2 separate regions of the Homo sapiens genome follow, and region 2 is linked to region 1. The links come from fine-mapping of genetic effects on gene expression. A gene starts in region 1. The other region holds a variant in brackets. All regions are shown on one strand. Distances are from middle to middle.

Region 1 (12,296 bases):
AGGTGTCTTTTTCAGAGGACTGTCATGATGATTAAATGAGATAAGAGTTGTGAGCTGCTCAGCACAGTGCCTAGTGCACAGCAAGCACTCAAAAGATGGAAGCTATTATTACTGAGGATTGAATGGAAATTAAATTAAAATAAGTGCGGCCAGGCACGGTGGCTCACGCCTGTAACCCCAGCACTTTGGGAGACTGAGGTGGGCAGATCACGAAGTCAAGAGATCGAGACCATCCTGGCTAACATGGTAAAACCCTGTCTCTACTAAAAATTAGCTGGGCATGGTGGCATGCGCCTATAGTCCCAGCTACTCGGGAGGCTGAGGCAGGGGAATCACTTGAACCCAGGAGGCAGAGGTTGCAGTGAACCGAGATGGCTCCATTGCACTCCAGCCTGGCGACAGAGCAAGACTCTGTCTCAAAAAAAAAAAAAAGTGCTCAGAACAATGCCCAGGCCCATAGTAAACACTAAACTTTACTGAAAATGTACGAATTGTAAATGAAGTTCTAAAGCAAAACAATTTTTTTATCTTCATGTAGAGGATACGATAGTATTTTGGGGAAAAAAATTCATCACTAGTTATGTCATTTTGGGTAAGTCACTGAAACCTCTGAATTTCTGTTTCTTCTCTGCAAAATGTGAGTGGCAGTGGATTAGATGATCACCATTGTTTCTTCCCGTTTTAAGGAGTCTGGAATTCTAAAGAATACCAGAACTTATATACACTAAAAATGTATCATATATACCATATAAAACTCTAGTTATAAACTAAGAAATAAGCAGTCACTAATAATGTAAGTTGATCAAAAACTTAAAAATCACTATAGGCCTACAGTATAAGACACCATAAACATAAAAATCTTTTAATTATTAAGGATGGATTAAATAATAAGCAACTATTAGATACAGAATTAAAGACAAAACAAAGATATTTTCATTTTTTATATAATTTCCTTTTCACATTCAGAGCAAGCAATTATTTTGAGCTTCTTATTCCATAAGAATGGCATATAGCGAGCTTAAGTAATCCCAGATTCCAAATTTGAGGAATCCAAATTGATGCTCTTTTACATTCAGGAGTCAGCAAACTTTTCTGCAAAGAGCCAGATAGTAAATATTTTAGGCTTACTCAACCCTTCCCTCGCAGCTCAAGAGCAAAGAATGCGTACATGAATGGCTGTGGCTGCATTCCAATAAACTTTATTTATGGACACAAATTTGAATTTCATACCATTTTCAAGTGTCAAGAAATTTTAATATTCTTTCTAATTTTTTTAATTTACCACTTAAAAATATAAAAACTATTCTTAGCTTGTAGAGTGCAAAAAAACAAGCAGTGTGCAGCAATTAGCCCAAGGGCCGTAGTTTGGCAACCCTGCCGTAATTACATATTTTGGGAAATAAAGTAGTAATGTAAGAAATCCGGAATTGGCAGAATGCCGTTATGGGATTTTCACGGGTTGGTTTGTTGATGTTTGTTTTGCTGCACTGTTTTCACCTGCCACTCCTCTAAGAGCGGCCACTACAAACCACCCACCCTTTCTCGCTCCCTGTGGCAAGGGTCCTGGGTTTAACATAGCCAGGTCCTGGGTTTAACATAGCCAGGTCCTGGGTTTAACATAGCCAGGTCCTGGGTTTAACATAGCCAGGTCCTGGGTTTAACATAGCCAGGTCCTGGGTTTAACATAGCCAAGGTAAGCCTGACACCTTGTGGTTGCATTGCGAACGGCAGGAGCTACCTTGGAAGTTAGCAGCACTGCACATCTGGGGAAGGGGAAATCCAGGAGGGAGCGGGGACTGCGGGGCCAGTCAATGAACCAGTCAGCAGGTGGTGGTGGTGGTGGTGGCGGCGGCGGCGGTGGTGGGTGGTGGGGGTGGTGGGGGTGGTGGTGATGTTGTTGTTGAAATGAGGAAGGATAAAGTCCAGAACTCACTATCTGACTTCTCTCTCCAAAGAGAACTTCCAAAATGCTACCTATGGGGGCACTTCATCCTATTAAAAAAATGAAGCAGCAGTGGCCAGGCTCGGTGGCTCACGCCTGTAATCCCAGTACTTTGGGAGGCCAAGGTGGGAGAATCACCTGACGTCAGGAGTTCAAGACCAGCCTGACCAACATGGTGAAACCCTGTCTCTACTAAAAAAAAAAAAAAACATCAGCCGGGCATGGTGGCAGGAGCCTGTAATCCCAGCTGCTTGGGAGGCTGAGGCAAGAGAATCACTTGAACCCTGGAGGCGGTTTCAGTGAGCTGAGATCTCGCCATTGCACTCCAGCCTGGGTAACAAGAGCGAAACGCCATCTCAAAAAATTAAAAACTAAAATAAAAATGAAGCAGCAACTTCCAGAGCCTTCACAACCAAAGGCTCCATGGACACTCAAGACTTTCCTTGGTTCAGTTAAATCTCCCACTTCTAGCCCTTAGCATTCGGGCGGGAGAAAGGGAAACTGGGCACGCTCCTCACTCCCACTCCTCCCAGATGCTTACACTCGAGAAAGAAGGAAAACCCACAGGACCTAACTGCTACTGAAAATCAGGAGTTAGCTGGCACAGTAGCTCACACCTATAATCCCAGCACTTTGGGAGGTTGAGGCAGGCGGATCACCTGAGGTCAGGAGTTGGAGACCAGCCTGGCCAAAATGGTGAAACCCCATCTCTACTGAAAGTACAAAAGTTAGCCAGGTGTGGTGGTGCCTGCCTGCAGTCTCAGCTACTTGGGAGGCTGAGGCAGGAGAATCTCTTGAACCTGAGAGGGAGAAGTTGCTGTAAGCCAAGATCGCACCATTGCACTCCAGCCTGGGTGACAAAGTGAGACTGTGTCTCAAAAAGAGAAAATCAGGAGTTGTACTCTGGGAAACAGCAAATAAGGGGCTTCAAGGAGGTAAAAACCAGTCATTGAACTGTTACAATAGCCCTGAGGCAACACAGAGTTGTATTCATTGCTTGCCCAGGTCAGACTGTCCCAAGCACTGTACAGGATGTCCCAAGCACTGTACACTGTGCTAGGACGAAGTGTTTTGCTTGTTTTGAGAAAAGGGTTGAAGAGACCATTCTTTCCATTGTCCTTCCTCTAGAAGTGTTTCCCCAAAACATTCTAGACTCGTTATTCCTATCCTATAAATTATGCAGGAAAGGAGGTTCTGCACCATGCTAGGTTGGGAAGTTCATCCTTTCATCTAATTCACAGCTGTCCCTCTGTGTTTCTGAGAAAGCAAAGAGAGGGGGGATACTTAGAGGGAATTTGGCAGCACTTTCCCCTGGGCAAGAGCCTCCTCTTTGGAGGTAACAAGCCCTGAGAGTCTCAGATGCATGCTGAACCACCACACTGCAGGAAGGGGTCAGATGGGCTGAAAAGAATCAGCGATGACCTCGACTGTCAACATCCCCAGCATAAGCACAGAGCTGGGTACCTGGGGGCAGGTGAATTGGCAAAGGATTTAAAGGCCCTGATCCCAGCGGTTCCTAATGCATCACCCACATTGACAACTCAGAGAAAGGCACAGTTGGTGGATGAGTCTAGAGTTTGTAGGTAGAGAACAGGGCCCTCCACCCAATCCAGACCTGTGTCATTGAGACTGGGATGGGATGCAGTTTTGTGGTCTTGAGACCATGTCATCCCTCTCTTCCTGAATACTACCCCCTTCCCTAGGGGGCAGTGGTGACATGGGACAGAATAAATTCACCTCATACACATTTGTTCCTGGGGCTGTGGCAACGCAGTGAAAGGGCCTGCCACCTTACTTGAAGTCCCGGGCAACTAGCAGTATCCAGAAGAGAAGACCTTTTTCAGGGACTGGAGGTCTGTTTCCCTCTTGGGGAAATGCTAACTTCCAACCTCAGTGCTGGTAACTTACCACTGTGCTGGCCTCTGCCCCACCTGCCCTCTAACAGGACAGTGAGAGTCCCTCTTAGGGTTAACCAGGTGGGTTGTTTTTTGTTTTGTTTTTGTTTTCCCCATCTTCAGTTTGGAGTGAAAGTTAGGAAGGCTGTGCAGTAGTGATGAGAGGAGGGCATGATTTTAGCATGACCTTTTCCTCCTCTCCCTTTATGCTTTACAATGAAAAGCTCAGGAACCTTCTCCCCACACAGTCGGATCTCCGGAGGCATCTGCAGGGATCCCAACAGTGTCGGGCTCTGCAGTCGGACTCTGCAGGGATCCGAACAGGGTCGCTGAGACCAGTGCACGAGCCTCTTCGGAAGATGCATCCTGGACTCTTGGCCGCAGAGGAGAAAGCGGTTGGGGTCTCCCAGGGACTCTTTCTAAAGGGTCAGTCCAGCATGGTAGGGGTTAACGTGGGTCCACGCGTAGAGGGAAAGGAAAGAAGTTGTAGTTGACACTTCAGGGGGGCGGGTGGCGGACGGGTCTCGCTGCCTGATTGGTTTTGCATTTCATCCCAATTTTTTTTTCTCCACTCTCTCTCCCTCTTTTCAGTTTCTCTCTCTGATCCCAGGGGAGGGGAAACGGGAATAGTGAGAGATCAAAAATAAACCTCTTATGTCAAGCCGGGAAGGAAGTATAAATAAGAAGGGCTCGGCAGCCCACTCGGTGCTTCCCGGGGTGGGGAGGAGGCAGGAGGCGGCTGCGCGGGGCTGGCGCGGGCAGGGGCGGAGGACGGGCGCACGCGGGCCGGGGCCAGCTGCTCGCGCTCGGCTCGGGGGCGGCGGCGCGGGAGGAGCGGGCTGCGCCAGCCAGAGGGGCCGCCGGGGGAGCGCTCCCGCCGCCGGGCCCCGCGGGCCGAGTCGGCCTTGCACCCGATTGATTCCGCTTTTCCTGGAGAGAGCGGCCGGGCCGCGCTCGGGCCGCCAGCACCTGCCCGCGCCTGGCGGGCTTCTTCCCTCTCCTGCGCGCAGCCACCGCCGCAGCCCCCATGCTCCCCGCCCCCGCCGCCCCCCGGTGGCCTCCGCTCCTGCTGCTGCTGCTGCTGCTGCTGCCGCTGGCCCGCGGCGCCCCGGCCCGGCCCGCAGCCGGGGGGCAGGCCTCGGAGCTGGTGGTGCCCACGCGGTTGCCCGGCAGCGCGGGCGAGCTCGCGCTCCACCTGTCCGCCTTCGGCAAGGGCTTCGTGCTGCGCCTGGCGCCCGACGACAGCTTCCTAGCGCCCGAGTTCAAGATCGAGCGCCTCGGGGGCTCCGGCCGGGCGACCGGGGGCGAGCGGGGGCTGCGCGGCTGCTTCTTCTCCGGCACCGTGAATGGGGAGCCCGAGTCGCTGGCGGCGGTCAGCCTGTGCCGCGGGCTGAGCGGCTCCTTCCTGCTGGACGGCGAGGAGTTCACCATCCAGCCGCAGGGCGCGGGGGGCTCCCTGGCTCAGCCGCACCGCCTGCAGCGCTGGGGTCCCGCCGGAGCCCGCCCCCTCCCGCGAGGACCCGAGTGGGAGGTGGAGACGGGAGAGGGTCAGAGGCAGGAGAGAGGAGACCACCAGGAGGACAGCGAGGAGGAGAGCCAAGAAGAGGAGGCAGAAGGCGCTAGCGAGCCGCCACCGCCCCTGGGGGCCACGAGTAGGACCAAGCGGTTTGTGTCTGAGGCGCGCTTCGTGGAGACGCTGCTGGTGGCCGATGCGTCCATGGCTGCCTTCTACGGGGCCGACCTGCAGGTAGGACTGAGAGCCTCCTCCAGCCGCCGTGCCCGGAGGCCCCCCAGACGCCTCCCAGCGTCTCTAAAATCTCCCCTTCCAATCCCTCTGAGAAAAAAAAAAAAAAAAAAAAAAAGCCCTCCCCACTCATCTTCTCCAGCCTTACCCCAAACGAGATTCTCTCCTGTCTGAGAAAGAGCAGTAACTCTTTTCTGAACTTCTGCCACCCTGGATCCCTGCGCCCCCACCCCCAGGTCCCTTCCAGTTTAGAGTGGGGCTGCCGACGCCCATCCCTCTCATCCGAATCTCCCGCGGCACGTGGCGCACTGACCCGAAAGTGGGTATCAACGCATTCCCCGGCACCTGCCTCTCCCAGCAGAGATGAAAATTGAGCGTTTACGAATAGCTCCCACTCCCACCCCTCAGCCCTCTACTGCCTCCAGATCTGAGAGGCTCCCAGGGAAAGGCAGATGGGATGGAGAGAGATGGCTGTCTGATTCCCTTGGGTATGGAGGTCGCCATAAGCAAAAGACATTGTTTGAAAGGAGCTGAACCTGGAGAGGGGCTGCCCAACTTCTGTGCAGCCAGCTGGTTGTGATCAATGGGGCATGGACTACCTTGCCAACCTGGCGCTCAGCCCCGGCAGAACTTGGCAATGCCAGCAGCCAGCACAAGAGGGAGGGGCAGAGAACTTCTGCCTGGGGGCTCAGCCCAGGAGCTGAAGCTTTGGTGGAAACGCGAGGGGCGCAGGGGCTGGAACGAGCTCTTTGGGTGAATGTCTCTAGTAAAGCCAGACCCACACTTGGTCCACCCAGCTGCCCTTAGCCCAGACACAGCTCTTACCTAAACAGGGGAGAAAAACAGAGTCCAGGGGATGGCTACCTAACCAGACCATTTCTAACTAGATGCAAAGATGGTGCTGACTCAGCAGGAGGTGTCTGTGTTGCCCTAAACCCCAATTTCTCCCCTAAAGACCAGGTGAAGGCTTTTCCAGGAGGAAAAGAGGGTAAGGCTTCCAGAAGAGGGGTGCTCTTTGCCCCTAGGGAGCACAGAACCAGAGATGTGCCAGGGAAGGAAGAACTGACCTGCCCAGACGTCATAGTTCCCTGAAACAGGGATCCTGGCAATGCAGCAGCTAAGCTGACACTTTGTGGTGATGGCATCCTTGGCCGGGACCCAATACTAGGCTCAGTCTGTGCCCGACTGCTGGGGGCCCCAAGGGCATAGGCATTGCCTGTGCAGAATAGTCCAGACAAGGAGGCGATCAGCCTTCTGTTTCTCACCCCATCTTTCCCACCCTCTATCACTGGGAAAGGCAGGGTAGGAAAGACCCAGGGAGAAACAGATGATTAGGATGGGAACTGCTGTGGGTGAGAGTCCACGTGGCTGCCCCTCTGGCTACTGCAGGTGCTGACTACACCCCAGGGACGCACCCCTGCAAGCCCTTGTGGTATTTGCTTCCCCAAAAGCAGGGCAGAGCAGCTTTGGGTCACGCTGATTTAACACCTGTTTCCCTGCCTGTCCTGAGAGCACGGAGCGGTGGGAGCACCAGCCCTCTCCTCTGACTCCTTTCTTTAAGCAAGTACTAGAGAGTGTGGCAGGAGAGGGGTGAGAAGAGGGCTTCTCCCATCTCTTTAGGACCCCCACACCTGGCTCCTAGGGGGCTCCACCAGAAAGAAGCTAAGATGGCCGGGCACGGTGGCTCAAGCCTGTAATCCCAGCACTTTAGGAGGCCGAGGTGGGCAGATCGCAAGCTCAGGAGATCAAGACCATCCTGGCTAACACGGTGAAACCCCGTCTCTACTAAAAATACAAAAAAAATAGCCAGGCGTGGTGGTGGGCGCCTGTAGTCCCAGCTACTCGGGAGGCTGAGGCAGGAGAATGGTGTCAACTCAGGAGGCAGAGCTTGCAGTGAGCGGAGACCGCGCCACTGCACTCCAGCCTGGGTGACAGAGCAAGACTCCATCTTAAAAAAAAAAAAAAAGAAAAAAGAAAAACACAAAAAAAGTAAGAAGCTAAGATGCACCCATTGCAAACCCAGAGCGGGGTGCTACACCCCTCTACCCCCACACATGGAACAGATTCTGACATCTACCTAAGAACCAAAACATAGGAAAGCCAAGAGAACTCCGTGCCAGCAGAGAAAGTCCATTTTTCAGCCTTCAGGGCCAGACTGTCTCACTCTCTCAGCTGATCACCTGGACGCTGGAGATAACTGAGTATTTGCCTCAGGGACATACTCGCATCTCCAGACATCCTAGCTATCTAGAGGCAGACATGCTCTGAGGCCCGACCCCAGGATGCCCGGGCTGCTGAAGCAGGAGACTCTGCTTGGGTTTGCACCCGATTTTGTTCCCTTCAGCTTAAAGTTCAGGTCTGCTGCCCCAGACAATTCGGCTTTCTCTGTGTCAGAGACACCCAGGCATTGCCATCCTCATGAGACTCCTGACCGGGCGATGTGGCTCCTGCTTGCCCCGCTCCCCATCCCCCACAAACACGCATTTCTGGACCTTTCCCAGCTGCACATTGGCACCTGCACACCCAGCCAGCCCACCTGGACCAGGAGAGCGCAGCAAAACAGGCATCGGGCACCTCTGAAGGCTGAGTTCCTCTCCCTAGGGGGTTGACTTCTGAGTCTCACCTGGAAGAAAAGTCTTCCCTCAGGGAGACTAGCCCCGCCACCTCCACCCTGGGTCTCATGTCCCATCCCACCTGTGCTCCTGCTGCCACCGTGGCGGGTGGGGGAGGGACTGAGGTACAGCTGTGTCCAGGACCACCCTCGGGCCCCTGTGCTATGATGAGCTGACCAGCCTTGGAGATGCTGCAGGACAGGCGTGACTGTCTCAGCTCAGTCCCCTGCGCTTCCGAAAACAGATCCATGAGCCCAGCTGAGAGAAGAATGAAAATCAAGTTCCCGTGCCTCAAGACCTTGGCTGCCCACACCCACCTCCTGCAAATGGAAGCCAGTCCTTTATGTGGAGACCTCATTCACACAGAGGGAAGGCACTCTGGGGTGATTACTCTTGGTAATCAGGGGTGTGGAGGATGAGAAGAGCCTTTACCTCTCTAGGGCTTAGAGTTCCTCATCTGTGAAGCAGGACACCTGGACTAGGTGATCAATCCCGGTCTGAGCACCTGTGTGGCTGCTTCATGATGAGCCAGTCTTCTGGAAGGTTTAGCCACTCTCTGAGCGTGTTCAATTCACAGCGTGGTTTTACACACATCACCTCCATGAAAATACCAGTGAGGGGGGCAGAGGGAGACTGCACAGCTCACAGAGGACATGTGGCTTCCTCAGGATCAGACAGCACCGATCAGGATCAGTAAGTGGCAGGGCTGGGCCTGCAGACCAAGTCTCCCAAAGCTGAATCCTGTGCACTGTTATCCCACCAGGCGGCCTCTTTCTCAGGACTAGGGTCTGTGGCTCTGTCGACCCTCTGATACTTGCTTATGTTGTGGGAGTGGGTCTTTAAATCCAGCAGTTCAAAGCCATCCAGGCCCACTGTGAGGCCCTATCCTGCAAAGAAACCGCCGTGGAGGCTGAGAGAAAGAACGCACCACTGCCAAAGCTGGTCTCACTATGTTACGCGACAATGAAGTTTTCCAGAGCTCTGTCAATTGAGTTCATTTAATCCCATGAGAAAAGGGGCCCCTGTCTCCCACCTTCTTATCTGGTTTCAGAGTTAAGGAGCTCAGACAGAGGGGCCTTTCTGAAAGGAGGGACCACCTGGGAAGACTCCATTAGCTCTGTCTACGTCCAGCTGCTGCTCAGTGTCCCCTGTGTGAACCCGGGGCGAGATGGAGTGAGGGGCAGCATGGCAGTGCCCACTCTCGCCAGCCTGGGACGCCTGTCCCGCCAGTGCTTCTGCAGTGAGCAGAGTTTTCGAGTCCTCTTCTTAGCAGAGAGGGTCCGAAAAGTGGCGCTCATCTTCCCAAAGTCCAGCAGAACACTCGCAGGAGGTCAGATTCTGGGGACTGACTTCAGGGACGGCTGTCACAGCCATCTCCATGCCCCCTTACCTGCATGCTGTGGGGAAAATGTCTTCCACAAGACACTAAAGTGGGCATGCAGCCTAGGTTGTCCAGCAGCATCCCAGTTTCTGCCTGTTCTGGCATAATTATTAATACTACCGTCTTTCCCTCTCAAGGGTGTCCTGGTTTGGATGACAACAGAAACAGATTCATGCCCCCCCCTGCTCTGTGGCTACCAGGGAGAAAGACAAGTGTTATATGTGCGTGATGTCCTTCCCATTGGCAAAAGAATGCATCTTTTCCATCCCTTATGTCTGCTGCAGTCAGAATGATCAAAGATATGGAGTATTTCCCAAAGAAAATGTCTCAGTGTCCAAAGATCGCCCCTTCCCCATCTCCCAGGAGGTGGGGTGTGCATAGGCAATGACAGGCGGACTTGCTGCTTGCAAGCCTTGGGTTCACTTTGGCTAGGCTGCAGTTTTCCTTACAGCAGCAAAGATGGGTGGCAGTTAGTACAGAGACTAAGAACACAAACTTTGGAATGAAATCGAAATAATGTAGTGTCCTTGAGCAAGTCACCTATTTCTGTGTACCTCGATTATTTCAGGTAGGAGCAGTTATACCAATGTCCTAGCCTTGTCTTGAGGATGTAAGAAAATATGGAATGCACCTGACCTGGTGCCTGGTCCAGACGACATACTCAGCAAGGCATGGCTATTACTAGAGTTGCCTTCGGTGATGGAAACCATTTGTTAGAGTGGGGAGGATGGGCTGGGCCATGCCATCAGAGTGCCGGCCACCGCTGTTTCAGCTTTGCTGTTCCACATGGCAGAGGAACCTTCTCTTTCAGTTGCCCATGCTCAGTGGTGAAGGCTGACTTGTAGTTCAGCGTCAGCGTATGCTTTCAAGGGACAACATTGCTCTTTGCTGCTTGCAGAACAAGAGGAGATGAAGCATATGATGCAGGTTGCTCTTTTCTCCTCTCACTTCTTTCCTCTCGCTTTGCTTCTCCATCTCCACACCCCCAGCTCAGTCTCAGGCCCTAGAGACGTCAGATAGGAAGAGGGAATGCAAGAGCTTCCCGGGGCCACTTTTCCTCACCTGACCTCCCCCCAGGCGCGCCGCAAGGGAAAGCTGTGGAGCCACCGGTGAAGCGCAAACCGGCTGGATGTAATGATGACATCGGGGCGGGAGGAGGCCGGCCCGTCCCCATCACCCACCGCAGCTGGCTTCGGCTACCACAGAAGCTCTGAGGAAGGAATCTCCTTGTTCGTATCTCAAAGAACCAAAAGGGGCTCTGGCCCACCCAACTGGCCAGGGTGTTGTTATTTTTTTTTAATTCATTTTTTTTTAATAGAGACAGGATCTCACTATGTTTCCCAGGCTGGTCTCAAGTGATTCTCCCACCTTGGCCTTCCAAAGTGCTGGGGTTACAGACATGAGCCACCCTGACTGGCCTGATGTTCATCTCTACTCCAGGTCCTGGGGTCACTCATGCACGAGCAGACTCCCTAAAAAGTGCCGCCTCTCCCTAACAAAAGTGAAGAGTATGGGATCCCCAAGTCATTCAAGAGCAGGTTGTTTGACCACCCTGGCTGGGCTGACCGTGGGCTCCCACCTACCTGCCGTGGTTTGGGGGGCGGCTGCTCTGCTGATGCCTCTGCTCCTCAGGGGGGCCAGGACCCCGTTCACATTCTTCACATGCAGCTTGCATTGGTGTGGGGAGCAGGGAGGTGTAAATCGGCACCAGGTGGTGGAGCAAGCCATCTGACTTCCTCCTTGACCAGCCGCAGGCCTGATCCCCACAGGACTCTCAGTCAGGCCTGTCCTTTGAACCCAGGATATTGGGGGAGAATCAAAGGCTCACAGCCCTGAGGTCCCCCACCTCACCCAGGCTCAGTGGTCCTTCTCCGTAGGGAACTGTGAGACGCACCGCATATATAAGGCATTCCTCTGGTCATTTCTCAGAAGAGCGGACTGGGAGGGGAAAACCAAAAACTCAGTAGAACAAGAGATAAGGAGAGATCAGTGGGATCGGGATCTGGGATTTTGAAGGGAACACTGGACCACAGAATCCTCCTAGCCTTCTTGAAAATGAAAAGTATCTTCTGAGACAGCGGCCAGAAGGACCTTCAGATGTCCTCAAGTCCAGCCCACCCCTCGAAGCTAAATGGCTCTGAAGCCGGCCCTGCCTGACAGCTATGCACTGTCTGGAGAAGACAATGATATGAGCTGTAGAGAAGGAGGCTCCCTGGGAACCTTAGGGCCGGGAAGCTCCTTGTGCTGTCTTGCCCTGATCTTCAAGCAGCAGTTTATTCTGCATGAAAATCAGGGGTTAACCCTCACCTTCCTCCGGTCTTCACTGAGGATGTGAGCACTGCCTCATCTCTCACTCAGCCTCCCTCCGATCTGCTCAACGTGGGCACACAGACTTGCCCCAACCTCCTGTCTTTAGCTCCTTGTGCTGAGCTGTCTCGGCCCCGAAGCTTAGCAGCTGGTGTTCCTTAGCTTTACACCTTCCTTGTGCGACCTCATCTTCCCCATTTTGAGATTGTGAAACTGGGACTCAGCGGGAAGAAATCTTGTGATGACGGTTGCAGTTTGCCTCAGAAGAAATTCCAGGGGTTGGTCCCTGGCCCATCAGACCCTGGTCCTTCTTAGAGAGATCAGGATACTGTTGGCCTCCTGGAAGCAGCAAAGACCCGGCCAGGAGTTCATCTCGGCAAGCCACCATTCCTCAGCGCTCACCCCCGGTTGCATA
Region 2 (12,296 bases), 22 kb after region 1:
CCAGAGGGGAGTAAATTGGGTCTCCTGGGATGTAGAGTTTTGCCTGTGATCTCCACCTAAATGGGCTCTGCAAGGTTCCAATCCCAGGGGCAGCTCTCAGGGACCCGGGACAGCTCTCATAGTGTTCAGAGAGCCTGGCAAAGTCAAGGAGAGAAATTACGCTCATCTTCCAAGATGTGGAGAGGAGGACATCACTCCCAACCAAACTTATTGGGGAGGAGCCTCTGCAGAGGGGCTGGTGTCTAGGAAACTAATCCTCCTGGAGGCATAGGAACCCTCATCTGTGTGCAGAATGGAAGCATTTTCCAAAGCAAGTGTCAGAGCCAAACCTCCAAGGTCTTTCTAGCCAAAATTCAGCCCAGGGCAGAGGGAGGATTTCTGAATCTGATTCCTGTTCACATTCCTTCTGAGAAGAGTTGCCCATCTTCCCTTGGGAACATGGCAACTGTTTGACAGAATCTTCCCAGGAAGGAATACTACCTCTCCCTCCCCTTGGCATATTCCTATCCCCAGTACCTGCTGGAAACCATGAACATTAACTTAGAGGCAGTAAAGGGGCAGCAGCAAACTCGTGAGAGGGAAATCATTACAAGGTTTTTCCCCACCATCCCATCCAACTGCCCAGTGTGCAGCTCCAGGAAGGATTGGCAGGCAAGAAAAATCAGGCAGAGCCTTAGGAGAGATTCAACCACGGGAAAAGACACTGGCATTGGGTTGATGTCTCAGGAGAATCTGTAGGCTTTGCGGTTTCACAAGACAAGAAGGATCCACAATGGTTTGAGGCTCTAGAAACTTTGCCCTGGAATTGTATGAGAGTTTGCCTGGCATACAGGGTGAGACGTTGCTGGGAAAGGGGGAGGATGAGAATGAATATAGGGTGCAAGGTAGGTGTGGACGAAAAGTGATGCCATGATGTCAGATGCACCAAAGTCTGCCATTACTGTCGAGTATTTTTTAGTATTTTTTGTGTGTCTAGAACTATAAAAATGTATGAAAATGTAAAAGGCATGGTCTCTGTCCCTAAGGAGCTTGTAGTCCAATTAGAGACCCAAATCCCTTTAACACAGCCATTACATTTCAATGGATGAGTCACAGACCCTAGGTTGGTGAGGCGCTCGGAGAAAGGAAAGGCTGGGTGAGCGGAAGCTTTGAAAGGAGTTAGGACTGAGCAGAGTCTGGAGGACTGAGATGGGTGAGGTGTGAGGGGACCTGCCAGGGTGGTGGAAAGGTGTGAGAAGGGCCCTCATTCACTTAGGTGGAATCAAGCAAAGCACACCACTATGTCAAGGCCAGACCACAGAGGTCCTTGAAGGCTGACACAGTATCTGGGAGTTATCTGTGCCACCTGTCCCATTAAGTCACCTGGAAGCTCCTGCAGACACAGCCCAGACCCCCTCAGCTGCACTGACTCAGAGTCTCAGGCGTGGAGTATGGCATCTGCCTTGGCAAAGTCTCCCCAGGCATTCAGATGCACAGTTTGGGCAGGGAACCTTGGCAGGAAGAACAGCTTTAATTTTAGGATTTGGGGGTGGAAAGCAACCCACATCTAACTTCAGATGGGTTGGTCTGGCAGCAGCACGTGGCAGGATGGAGAGGAGGCAGGCACAGGTCCCCATGAAGCCAGCAGGCCTGGGCTTGTGGTGGTGAGAGTGGGATGCCATCGTTTTAAATCACAGATTGTCCTGAATATAGTGTGGGTCTTTGTGACAGTTTGGAAATAGCAGATAGAGATGCTCAAATGTTCGGGAGATACCAGGATACCAGTCTCAGACTTGGGCATGGTAAGATCAGCAAATGAAAGTCAAGACAGTTCGTGGAAGGACCATCGGGAGCTTGGCCATGCTGAGTTGGAGGTAATCACAGTACATACAAACGGAGCTCCCCAGGGACACCCAGAATTACGGAATGTGGGTGTAGGGGCAAGATCAGAGCTAGACATGTAGATTTAGGAGTCTTTGGATTCATGTCCGGTGTCACTGAGGAAATCGATACTGCACAATTAGTAGTGTCCTGAGAATATAGCTCCACATGCCATTCTGTGCCTTCCAAGCTTACTGAATTGTTCCCTGTTGCTCCCTGCGTTTATTCACCTGTAGAGTACAATGAGTCTCTTTCCCTAATGGAAAGGGCATTTATCCTAGAAAGCCCAGCATGCGGCTGGAGGCTCCTTTCCTTGCCCTTTTGAGTAAGGGTCACACATGCGTCTAGGAATGTTGTGCCCAGAAGACACTGGCCCTGGGCGCCTGGGTTGAGTTCAAAACCAAAAGAAAGAAGAAAAGTGCTGTAAATTCGGGATTTCTCCACCGGATGCTCCTGCTTCCGCATGGGTGTCACCTCCATGCCGTTTCTTCCTCTTTCTAGGGAAAAGCTTCAGGGAGCAGCAGTGTGAGAAGTATAATGCCTACAATTACACTGACATGGACGGGAATCTCCTGCAGTGGGTCCCCAAGTATGCTGGGGTGTCCCCCCGGGACCGCTGCAAGTTGTTCTGCCGAGCCCGGGGGAGGAGCGAGTTCAAAGTGTTCGAGGCCAAGGTGAGAATCACCCTGGGACTCAGATCCAGAGATGGGGAGGAAGGTCGCCTGTCCCCACACCCCCGCCCCCCGGCAGGCTGCTTCTGTGCTCAACACGCCCTCCCTCACCTTCCCTTTCCCCGTTGCAGGTGATTGATGGCACCCTGTGTGGGCCAGAAACACTGGCCATCTGTGTCCGTGGCCAGTGTGTCAAGGCCGGCTGTGACCATGTGGTGGACTCGCCTCGGAAGCTGGACAAATGCGGGGTGTGTGGGGGCAAAGGCAACTCCTGCAGGAAGGTCTCCGGGTCCCTCACCCCCACCAAGTGAGTCTCCCCAGAAGTTCTGTACCTTGCTTGGTAGAAGAGCATAATGGGCTTTGCACTCTGCTAGGCCCAAATTGAACTGTGGCTGCTACTTAATAGCTGTGAGGGTTGGGCAAGTTATTTAAACTCTCCGAGCTTCAGTTTCTTTGTAAAATGTCAGCAGTATCTCTATCTCAGAGTCGTTGTAAGGATTTCCTGAGATGGGATGTGCACTTGGCAGTGTCGAGCTCATAGAAAAGATAGAACACAGGGCAGCCGTGACTTTTACGAGGGCTGGAGGCCATGTGGATAGGGAGCTGTCATCTCTGAGTCAATCGAGCCACACTGAGTAACCTGGACCTCTGCCAGAAAACAGCTCTCCCAGGCCTGTTTTGGGAAGGACGTCTCACCCTAAGCCTGGCAAGCCCCTGTCCTTTCTGCAGATGGATCTTCAGAGAAGGGGGTTACCAAAAAGGGGCCCTGGCAGCCTCAGGGCTTTCATGAATCTGAGAACTCCAGACACTTTTTTCTCATCCTAATGCCCCACATTCATAAAACTCCAAGGATTTTCCAAAGCGCTTTCATTTCCATGGTCTCATTTGATTTGTAAAATAAGTCCATGAGGTGAGCAAGGCCAATACTATTCCTCATTTTGCAGAGGAAGAAATTAAGGCACAGAAAGATTAAATGACTTTTCTAAGGTCACATTGATGGTTAATGACAGCCAGAAGAGAACCTAGTTTTCCTAAGTCCTGGATGACTTTTGTCTCCCATTCCATGTACTTCCTGCAGAGTAAGGGCAAGTTCGGGTGTTTTATATGGGCCACACTCTGCCTGTCTGCCTCCAGTACATCAATGTGTCCTAGGGCTTATGTGAGCATCCACCTGTCCAGCCACTTCCCCCACTCACGGTCTCAGAGTTTTTGAGAAGTGTTCACTGTATTGTATTCTACCTAGTGAAGCTCGCAAACCCTGCCCCATTCTGTGTGTGTGTGTGTGT[C/G]TGTCTGTCTGTCTGTCTGTCTCTACATCTCTCATCTCACCAGTCTGAGAGAACAGAATCAGCCTACAGCAGGCAACTTGGGACTGTTTTCATTTTTTTTAATTTATTTTTATTATTTTGAGACAGAGTCTCACTCTGTTGCCTAGGCTGGAGTGCGGTGGCACGATCTTGGCTCACTGCAACCTGCTTCCCAGGTTCAAGCAATTCTCCTGCCTCAGCTTCCCAGGTAGCTGGGATTACAGGCATGCACCACCACACCCAGCTAATTTTTGTATTTTTAGTAGAGACTGGGTTTCGTCATGTTGGCCAGGCTGGTCTTGAACTCCTGGCATCAAGTGATCCGCCCGCCTTGGCCTCCCAAAGTGCTGGGATTGTGGGTATGAGCCACTGCGCCCTGCCTTGGAACTCTTTTTACATTTAAGCTCAAAAGACATAGAAAAAGAGAAGCAGACACTATTCAGATACTGGGTCCCTTGGCCACTTTCCCTCAGGCTTTAGACAGATGGGCCTGTGGACACTCTAAGAGTCTGAAACTAAGCAGCTAGCCCCAGCTGGACATATGGTAAGAAAAGCAAAAAGCCCGCCTGACCACTCGCCTCACTTTCTCCCCAGCCTATGGAACCCAGATTTCCAGAAAAGAACAAACAACTAATCTTTCTTCATCCTACCTAAAGCCCTAAGCCTATAATGGACTGGAAACAGTTTCCCAAAACTGCTTCCTATCATTCCAGAAGCACAGTGCTCATGGTGCCTGGGCACTCCCAGAAGGTGGCTTCAAAGAAGCAGGCTTAAACCCCCAACTCCCAACCCCACCCTGATCCCACCCTAGGGCCATATTCATCAAATACTAGGAGCCGACTGACTCAGAGAGGTGGTGTGAAATTTCCCTCCTGTTCACGTTCTGGAAGGGGTGTGTGGAACAGTTTTTTCCATGTGGGTTTGAGCTCTGGGTATGGAGGTGGCCAATCAAAGTTGTATACCAGTGCAAGGAGCTAGAGGTATTTGAGATCACATTTGACAGGTGCCAGGTTTGGCTACACCAGTGCAGCTTTCCACATCCTTCTGGGTTCTCCTCGTCTCTATGCTGTTCTCAACACCCACATACCTCAACTCCTCAACCACACTTTTGAAATAGAGTTGCCAGATGAAGCAAACACCCTTGAAAATCCCAATGTACAGACATTTCTGTCTGCCTAAACAGCTAATTTATTGAGAACTTTGAGGCAACTTGCTTAATTACTTGCTTTGTTTTTTTCGTGTCTGCCACCTGGGGTGCCCACTTCAGTCTCCAAGGCATCATCGTGACCTGGGCTGGGCAGCCACTGGTCTAAGGGTGTCCTTCTGTTTCTATCACAGTTATGGCTACAATGACATTGTCACCATCCCAGCTGGTGCCACTAATATTGACGTGAAGCAGCGGAGCCACCCGGGTGTGCAGAACGATGGGAACTACCTGGCGCTGAAGACGGCTGATGGGCAGTACCTGCTCAACGGCAACCTGGCCATCTCTGCCATAGAGCAGGACATCTTGGTGAAGGGGACCATCCTGAAGTACAGCGGCTCCATCGCCACCCTGGAGCGCCTGCAGAGCTTCCGGCCCTTGCCAGAGCCTCTGACAGTGCAGCTCCTGACAGTCCCTGGCGAGGTCTTCCCCCCAAAAGTCAAATACACCTTCTTTGTTCCTAATGACGTGGACTTTAGCATGCAGAGCAGCAAAGAGAGAGCAACCACCAACATCATCCAGCCGCTGCTCCACGCACAGTGGGTGCTGGGGGACTGGTCTGAGTGCTCTAGCACCTGCGGGGCCGGCTGGCAGAGGCGAACTGTAGAGTGCAGGGACCCCTCCGGCCAGGCCTCTGCCACCTGCAACAAGGCTCTGAAACCCGAGGATGCCAAGCCCTGCGAAAGCCAGCTGTGCCCCCTGTGATTCAGGGGGGCAGGGGCCAGTCTTGTGCTCCTGGACATGCGGTACTGAGGTGCAGACAAGGGTCTCCACTGTGGTGACTGGGTCCCTTGGCCATATCAAGGCAGCACGGCCCACCCAGGCCTCCCATTGCCGCAACCCCTCCAGTACTGCACAAATTCCTAAGGGGGAAGAGGAGAGGGTATGGGGCGGCAGACCCTATCATCAACTGTCCAGTGGACTGGACCTTGCTCGGGTTCAAGTAGAGGGCATAGGTTAAAAGGTAAAAGTGCACTTATTGACTCAGACAGGACACTCAGCGTCAGTCTGTTTGCAAAGGACTAGCAAACTTAAATGAAAAAAAAAATTCTATCTGGTTTCCCCGATAAATAATCTACCTCACAGGGGAAAAAATTAGTACAAGAGAGGCGTGGGGCAGGGAGTCAATGGTGAATGTCAAAGCAGGCTCCAAAGCTGGACCCCAAGCTGTCTTCAAGAATGACCACGACTGTCTTCAGTGTTAAAATCCATCACCTAAAGGGCCGCAGCGTCGCAGGGTTTGGAGAGCCACATGTTCTCAGGCTGCCACCTGCAGGGGTGGATCCATTTCAAGTATTTATGCAAATGTGTCTCTGAACTAAAGTGTGATCTTATGCCAATGCAGTGGTCTGGTCTGATTCATTGTTTCTTTGGAAAGGGCAGCAACCTAGAACCCAGGGATGGAGGCTGAAACTAGGTCAGCAGCTGGATCCCTGCCTGCTCTGGGTCCTCACAGGCCTGCAGAATCCAGCTCATTCGGGCAACTTTCATTTGCAGGATCTAGACCAGTGGTTCCCAAGGTTTCATTAGGATCACGTAGAGGGCTGTGAAAATGGATTGTGAGGCTGGGCACAGTGGCTCACACCTGTCATTCCAGCACTTTGGGAGGCTGAGGCAGGAGGATTGCCTGAGCCCAGGAGTTCAAGACCAGCCATGACAATATGGCGAGACCCTGTTTCTATAAAAAATTAAAAAACGAAATCAGTCGGTCATGGTGGTACAGGCCTGTAGTCCCAGCTACTCAGGAGGCTGAGGTGGGAGGGTCACTTGAGCCCAGGAGGTTGAGGCTGCAGTGAGCCATTTTCATGCCACTGCACTCCAGCCTGGATGACACAGTGAGACCCTGTCTCAAAAAAAAAAAAAAAGAAAGAAAGAAAGAAAAGAAAACACAGATTGTGGGGCCCCATCCCCAGAGTTTCTGATCTAATGGTTGGGGTGGCCTGAGAATCTGCATTTCTAACAAGTTCCCAGTGACTGACATGGAGGCTGCTGGTTTGGGAGCCACACTGTGAACACCTGTGCTACAGGAAACGTCCAGCTGGGAGATCACAATTGTTATGCGATGCCTTTGGGCTCATCATTCTTGAGAAAGAATATCCCCTTCCTCTCTGTGAGCTACCCCATCATCCTCTTACATGCTGCCTGCCTCCTTTTAGTTTAGCTGGGGGCACCAGATCCTCAGCCCCTACTCCGCTCCATAGCTCCTCATCTCTCCTGTGGCTCAGAGGAACTCTGGCTCAGTCTTCCACCTGGTCTGGTGCAGAGGGAACTTACTTAGTCCCTGATCACAAATGGGTGACAAGAAACAGACATCAAGAAATGACATTCTAGCAAAAGAAGGAAAATACCCAAATGTGCATCTTGGTTTTTTTCACCACCTGTGCCCCCTTTGTCCTCCCATTCAGATATCTGGCACCATGGGCAGAGAGGATGCTGTAGGGGCACTAGGCAAGGCCATGAGATTCCAGCCCCACTGTTCCCCTTAGCTGCTCTCTACACGATGACAGCTGACTCAGAGTTGGTCACTCCTTCTTGTCTGCCTACTCTTTTCAGCGAGTGGGAGGCTGGGCTTACCTAAGCATAAACAGGCACACACACAGGCATGTTGTTGATGACTAGCAAAACCAGATTGTTTCCCTGCTGTGCACCAGTTTTGTGGAGGCTGATGTATGCTTCCGCAACTCTTCATCGCCTTCCATTTCTCGCTCTCCCCCAAATAAGGCCAAGCGTGTCCCCCTTAACGGCCTAAGCCAGGCCAGCTGTGCCATCCCTGCTGCCTGCATCATTACCAGGCACAGCTTTTGCCCTGGAGTTCAGCTGGCAGCAGAGCTGCTGATGTGCAAAGCAGAATGGAATCCAGCTTGGCTCTCCCGGTTGTGTGGGCTCGGCGAGGCTCTCAGAACGCATACTTGTTTGTGTCTGGAAATTCAACAGCTGCAGCCCAGGGACTCAGAAACCAGATCTGCAGAGGAAGACCACACCATTATCTGCCCCAGCCAACCACGACCACTCTGTGCACCCAGAGAAGGAGAGAAGACTGTATTTCCTCTGCTGAAAGATTGTGTTTTCCAGCTAGTGCTCCTAATGGAAACTGGTACTCTCTTCTAATGGGAGGCCCTGACTTGGCAGGTAATTTGGTCATTAATCTGAATCCTCCAGGCACCTGCCAGAAATACTTCGAAGGTGGTACAGTAGCATAAAGTTAATTTCCAACCTTTCATTTTTAAGATAAGTGAATCTTTATCTGGGGTTTATCCTCTGCCCTTTATTCCTCTATCACAGATCAGAGGGTTTTGTGAATTTACAAAAGTATGCAATATTACTATTCCCAGTCCACTCTAGCAGACCACCCCTCTCCCAGGAACATATTCCAGGGGTGGTAGGACCCATCTCACTAGATCCGCATCTGTTCTCTGATGACATCCACCTGCTTCTACATCCTTTGTGCTTGAACTTTTTAACCAAGTCACCCTCTTAGTGAGGACTCTTCCTCTTTTCTGGTGTCCAAACATGTCACCCTTCCTGTTTTCCTCTGGAGTGTGCTCCGGAGTTGTTTCAAACCACCCCTCCCTCCCCACACCCCCCAAAAAACAAAACTACAAATGACAAGAACAATTGGAAAGTTCTTAAGGGATACTGGCTTTTGCTTTGTCTTGATATTTTCCACTTGTGGTCCAGGGCAGATAAAGAGGGAGGCCTTGTCAGCCCTGCGCTATGGCGTCTGCAGCGTTGAGCAGCTGCGTGTACTGGGCTTTCCTGCGTGGTGCAGACTACCCTGCCCAGGTGCCCCTGGTCCCAGGAGGGGAGGCTCGTGAACCCCGCAGCAATCTCGACTCCGTGTGCTCTGCCCCAGATCACCAGGTCCCTCCAGGAACCTGCAGCATTTCCTTTGCTGTTTGGGAATTCAAAATGGTTTCTCGAAAAATGTGAACAGGAAGGCAGAATTTATCAAAGAGGACTAGATGTAGCACGACCCTTGGATTCCCAGATTTCTGCTGCCACAGACTCATCACTTCTTTTTGCCCCTATGATGAGTTGAAGCTACATTTCGGAACACATGGCCCCAAAAAACAGGAGACGGGGTGAACATCATGAGGACGGTGATGACGTCTTCTATAAGCCTAGGTTACTGGCCCTGAGACGTGTCCTCTGCCCTCCTCCACTCCCACTCTGCCCTGTGTGATGTGGGAGGGAATTCCTCAGGTGAAGACAGGCTCGTCCCTGCCCAGAATTTCCCATCCGTAGCTGCACCGCGGTTAGACACTCAGCTTCCCCAAGCCCCGCATGTGCACCGTCAGTAAGTACCGGGACAGGAAGCAGAGGAAGGGAAGGATGCAGCCGCATTCAGTCCCAGAGAACAGCAGGCCCGGGTTACTCCTCTTTGGTGGCCGGGGCTGAAGGACAGTCTGTCTTATGGGGAAAACTCTCCTCCCCACGTTTTTCTGGGGGCCTCCGCTGAGCTCGCATTGGGAGAGCTGCATGTGGAATGTGGGAAAGAAGAAGTCACCCATCTAAGCCAGCGTCTTCATTGGCTCAATGTTGGTGATCACTAATGCGACAAATACTGTGGTTGTATTGACCGTACATATGACAACATTCTAAACAACACAGGAGAACACAACGAGCAACAGTAAAAACTGGAGGGTCCCGCGAACGGAGTGGGTGGGCTGTGACTCCCACACTTTCCCTGCCCCTGGCCAGCCCCTCCTAAGCACCTGTGTGCTTTCCAGGTCAACACTGCAGAATGACCTGGCCAGACGTAACCAATAGGTGTGGTCCTAAACAGCTGGTACCACACTTCCCTGGCTCGTTCTTCTTCAGGTGGGGAGTTTTTCTGACCTTCCACTTTGGAAAGAGCAGGACTTGCTTAAAACTGAGTGCCGGCCAGCCCACACCCCCTGAAATAGATCAAGGGACTCATCACAGCCACTGCTCAAGTACTGGGAAGAGACATGACACCAGTGCACAAGTGCATTCTGAACCGTAATGACAAGCAGAGAGCAAGAAAGCCACCTGTCTCTTTAGAACATACTTTCCCTCAGGCCTGGGGCTCAGTAGAAAGAGACAGGAAGGTTCCGGCTGGCCTTCCAGCCCCCAGAGCTGCCCAGCCCAGCCCTGGCAGATGCGAATCGCCCCAGGAAAGGAGAGAGGAAAGAAGCCTTCCCCAGACCTCACCGTTCCTCATTCCAAACATCTTGTAAGTCCCAGGGGCACTGAGAGAGTTTGTCCGCAGCCAAACACAACTTCCTGTTTCTAAGAAAGGGAAGAAAAAAAATAGTTGAAAGGGTTTTTGGACACTGGAAATTTCAAGTTTCTGTAAACGCGAATGAATCAGACACATGTGGAATGAATTTCTCCGGAAGTAAGAAAAGATGCTGTGAGTTCCTCTTGCTGGACCAGAAAATAGGAAAAGGGTAGCTGCGGGGGAGGTGCGTCAGAGGCTGCAAGGAGAGAAGCCATGTGGACATGGGATGGAAGAGAGGGTCCCATCAGTGACAAGGTTCAACGAGGCTGCCCTGAAGCCACGTTCTGAAGCTGCTCATTACTCAGAACTGCTCCACCTCTGAAGTCCTACATCAAATCTCCTCCTCCTCAACCACAATCTCCCATCTTCCCAGATCTTTCCCATAAATGCATCCTTCCCCATGCCCTGACCGCCTCCGCACGTGTCCTTCCCCCATCCATCTTTCCTGCTCCTCTGTCTTCAGCTTTCCCTGAGCTGCTTGGACTCCACGTTCAGCGCCTCCACCTCAATCTTGCCAGTGTTCTCACTGCCCTTGCCCCACAGACTCTCTGTGCTGCTCAGCAGGCAGAGCCTCACACGGCACCCATTCCCCTCTCCCCACCTCTCACCTCTCACGTCATCCTGCTACAAGCAGATCCACACCCCGGGGGAATCCCAGCCCTGAGCACACTGGTGCCACCATAAAGTTACAGCGTTTGATGGAAACTGTCCAGCAACCCGAGCAGACCCCCTCTCAGCAATACCGATGGTTGTCCACAGAACTATTCTGCGCTTCCCATGCTCCTCCAGCTCATCCCCATGCCACGCTTCGCTGTGAGTGAACAAACTCACCTCCACTGCTAAGTGGAGCCCAGTACCGTATCTCTTATCATGGAAGGGAGAGGGGACACCAGCTCACCATTAACGGGCCACGTATAGACACGAATCTAGAGGAACATTATAACTCTCTCTTATTTTGGATTCAACAGGCATGTTTCAATCTCTGTCAAGTCCATAGGAGAGTGAAGACTCAGAAGATAACTCCTCCCCCTGATTAAATTAATCCTCCAGCTCTCTGAAGGGCACAGTACATCATGAGATTTAAACACCTAGGTCTAAAACAAAAAAAAACAAAGAAAAAGAAAAATACGCCGGGCACAGTGACTCATGCCGGGAATTCCAGCATCTGGGGAGGCTGAGGCAGGCAAATCACTTGAGGCCGAGAGTTTGAGACCAGCCTGGACAACATGGTAAGACCTCGTTTCTATAAAACATATAAAAAACTTAGCCAGGGCTGTTCCAGCTACCCAGGAGGCTGAGGTGGGAGGATCACCTGAGCCCAGGGAGGTCGAGGCTGCAGTGAGCTGTGATCCTACCACTGCACTTCAGCCTGGGTGACAGAGCCAGACCCCTTCTCAAAAGTAAATAAATAAATACACACCCAGGCTCCCTCATGGCCCAGCTTCTCTACCTCATCCTCCTTGTTGGCCCCTCAGTTTCCACCACTGTTTGGAGTCCTGGGTGTGGCCCTGACATGGTCTGTCAGTCCCTCGGTTCTTTCTAGTTTCACTGTTAGATGGAGATGGTTCTTCAGATCCCAAAGGTGGGTGAGGGGAAGGGGGAAAATCTCTCACAGGGACAGGACCAAGGACAGCATACCTAAGAGAGTAGGCTTTGCACAGTACTAACTGTGGCCTCCTGCTAGCCTATCCCTGGTGCATTAGGATGTGAAAAAATGTCTCCCTCTTCTCCATCTGGAGTTACATTACCGAAAGCCTAGCCTACAAATGTGTCAGATCTCAGGAAGCAGGACAGGGTGAGGAAAAAAAAAAAAAACACAAGAAAATGAAATCGTAATTTTAAAAACCCTGTTCGTTTCTTACCACGAATCCTGAAATCTTGCTGGTAGCTACGGATGCGCCTCAATTTACACAGAGTTACATCCCCAATAAACCCATGGTAATATCGTAAGACTAAAATGCGTTTAATATCCCAATAAATCCATTGTAAAGTCAAAAATGTGTAAGTTGAAT

Alleles and levels. Positions count from the first base shown, and alleles are read on the strand shown. Sizes are in standard deviations (SD) of each study's normalised expression.
For the expression in prefrontal cortex of the gene that starts at base 4,542 in region 1, allele C in region 2 goes with a higher level than allele G (small effect, 0.27 SD a copy in CommonMind).

What was found. PIP is the estimated chance that this variant, and not a neighbour inherited with it, causes the effect. A credible set is the group of variants that fine-mapping cannot tell apart.
Region 2: its variant is the best candidate, but not a certain one, in a credible set for the expression of ADAMTS8 in prefrontal cortex (CommonMind, PIP 0.84).

What each region holds. Positions count from the first base shown.
Region 1 is chr11:130,420,855-130,433,150 of GRCh38, reverse strand. ADAMTS8 (ADAM metallopeptidase with thrombospondin type 1 motif 8) reads left to right here and starts at 4,542. Exons shown (of 9, transcript NM_007037.6): 1 at 4,542-5,584. The coding sequence starts at 4,865.
Region 2 is chr11:130,399,006-130,411,301 of GRCh38, reverse strand. ADAMTS8 (ADAM metallopeptidase with thrombospondin type 1 motif 8) reads left to right here. Exons shown (of 9, transcript NM_007037.6): 7 at 2,362-2,534; 8 at 2,663-2,838; 9 at 5,174-6,379. The coding sequence ends at 5,744. It overlaps ZBTB44-DT (ZBTB44 divergent transcript), which reads right to left. Exons shown (of 7, transcript NR_148980.1): 6 at 10,215-10,292; 7 at 7,645-8,001. Among named protein-coding and RNA genes, the nearest start is that of ADAMTS8, 23 kb to the left of the region's middle. The variant C/G (reference allele first, on the strand shown) is at 3,818.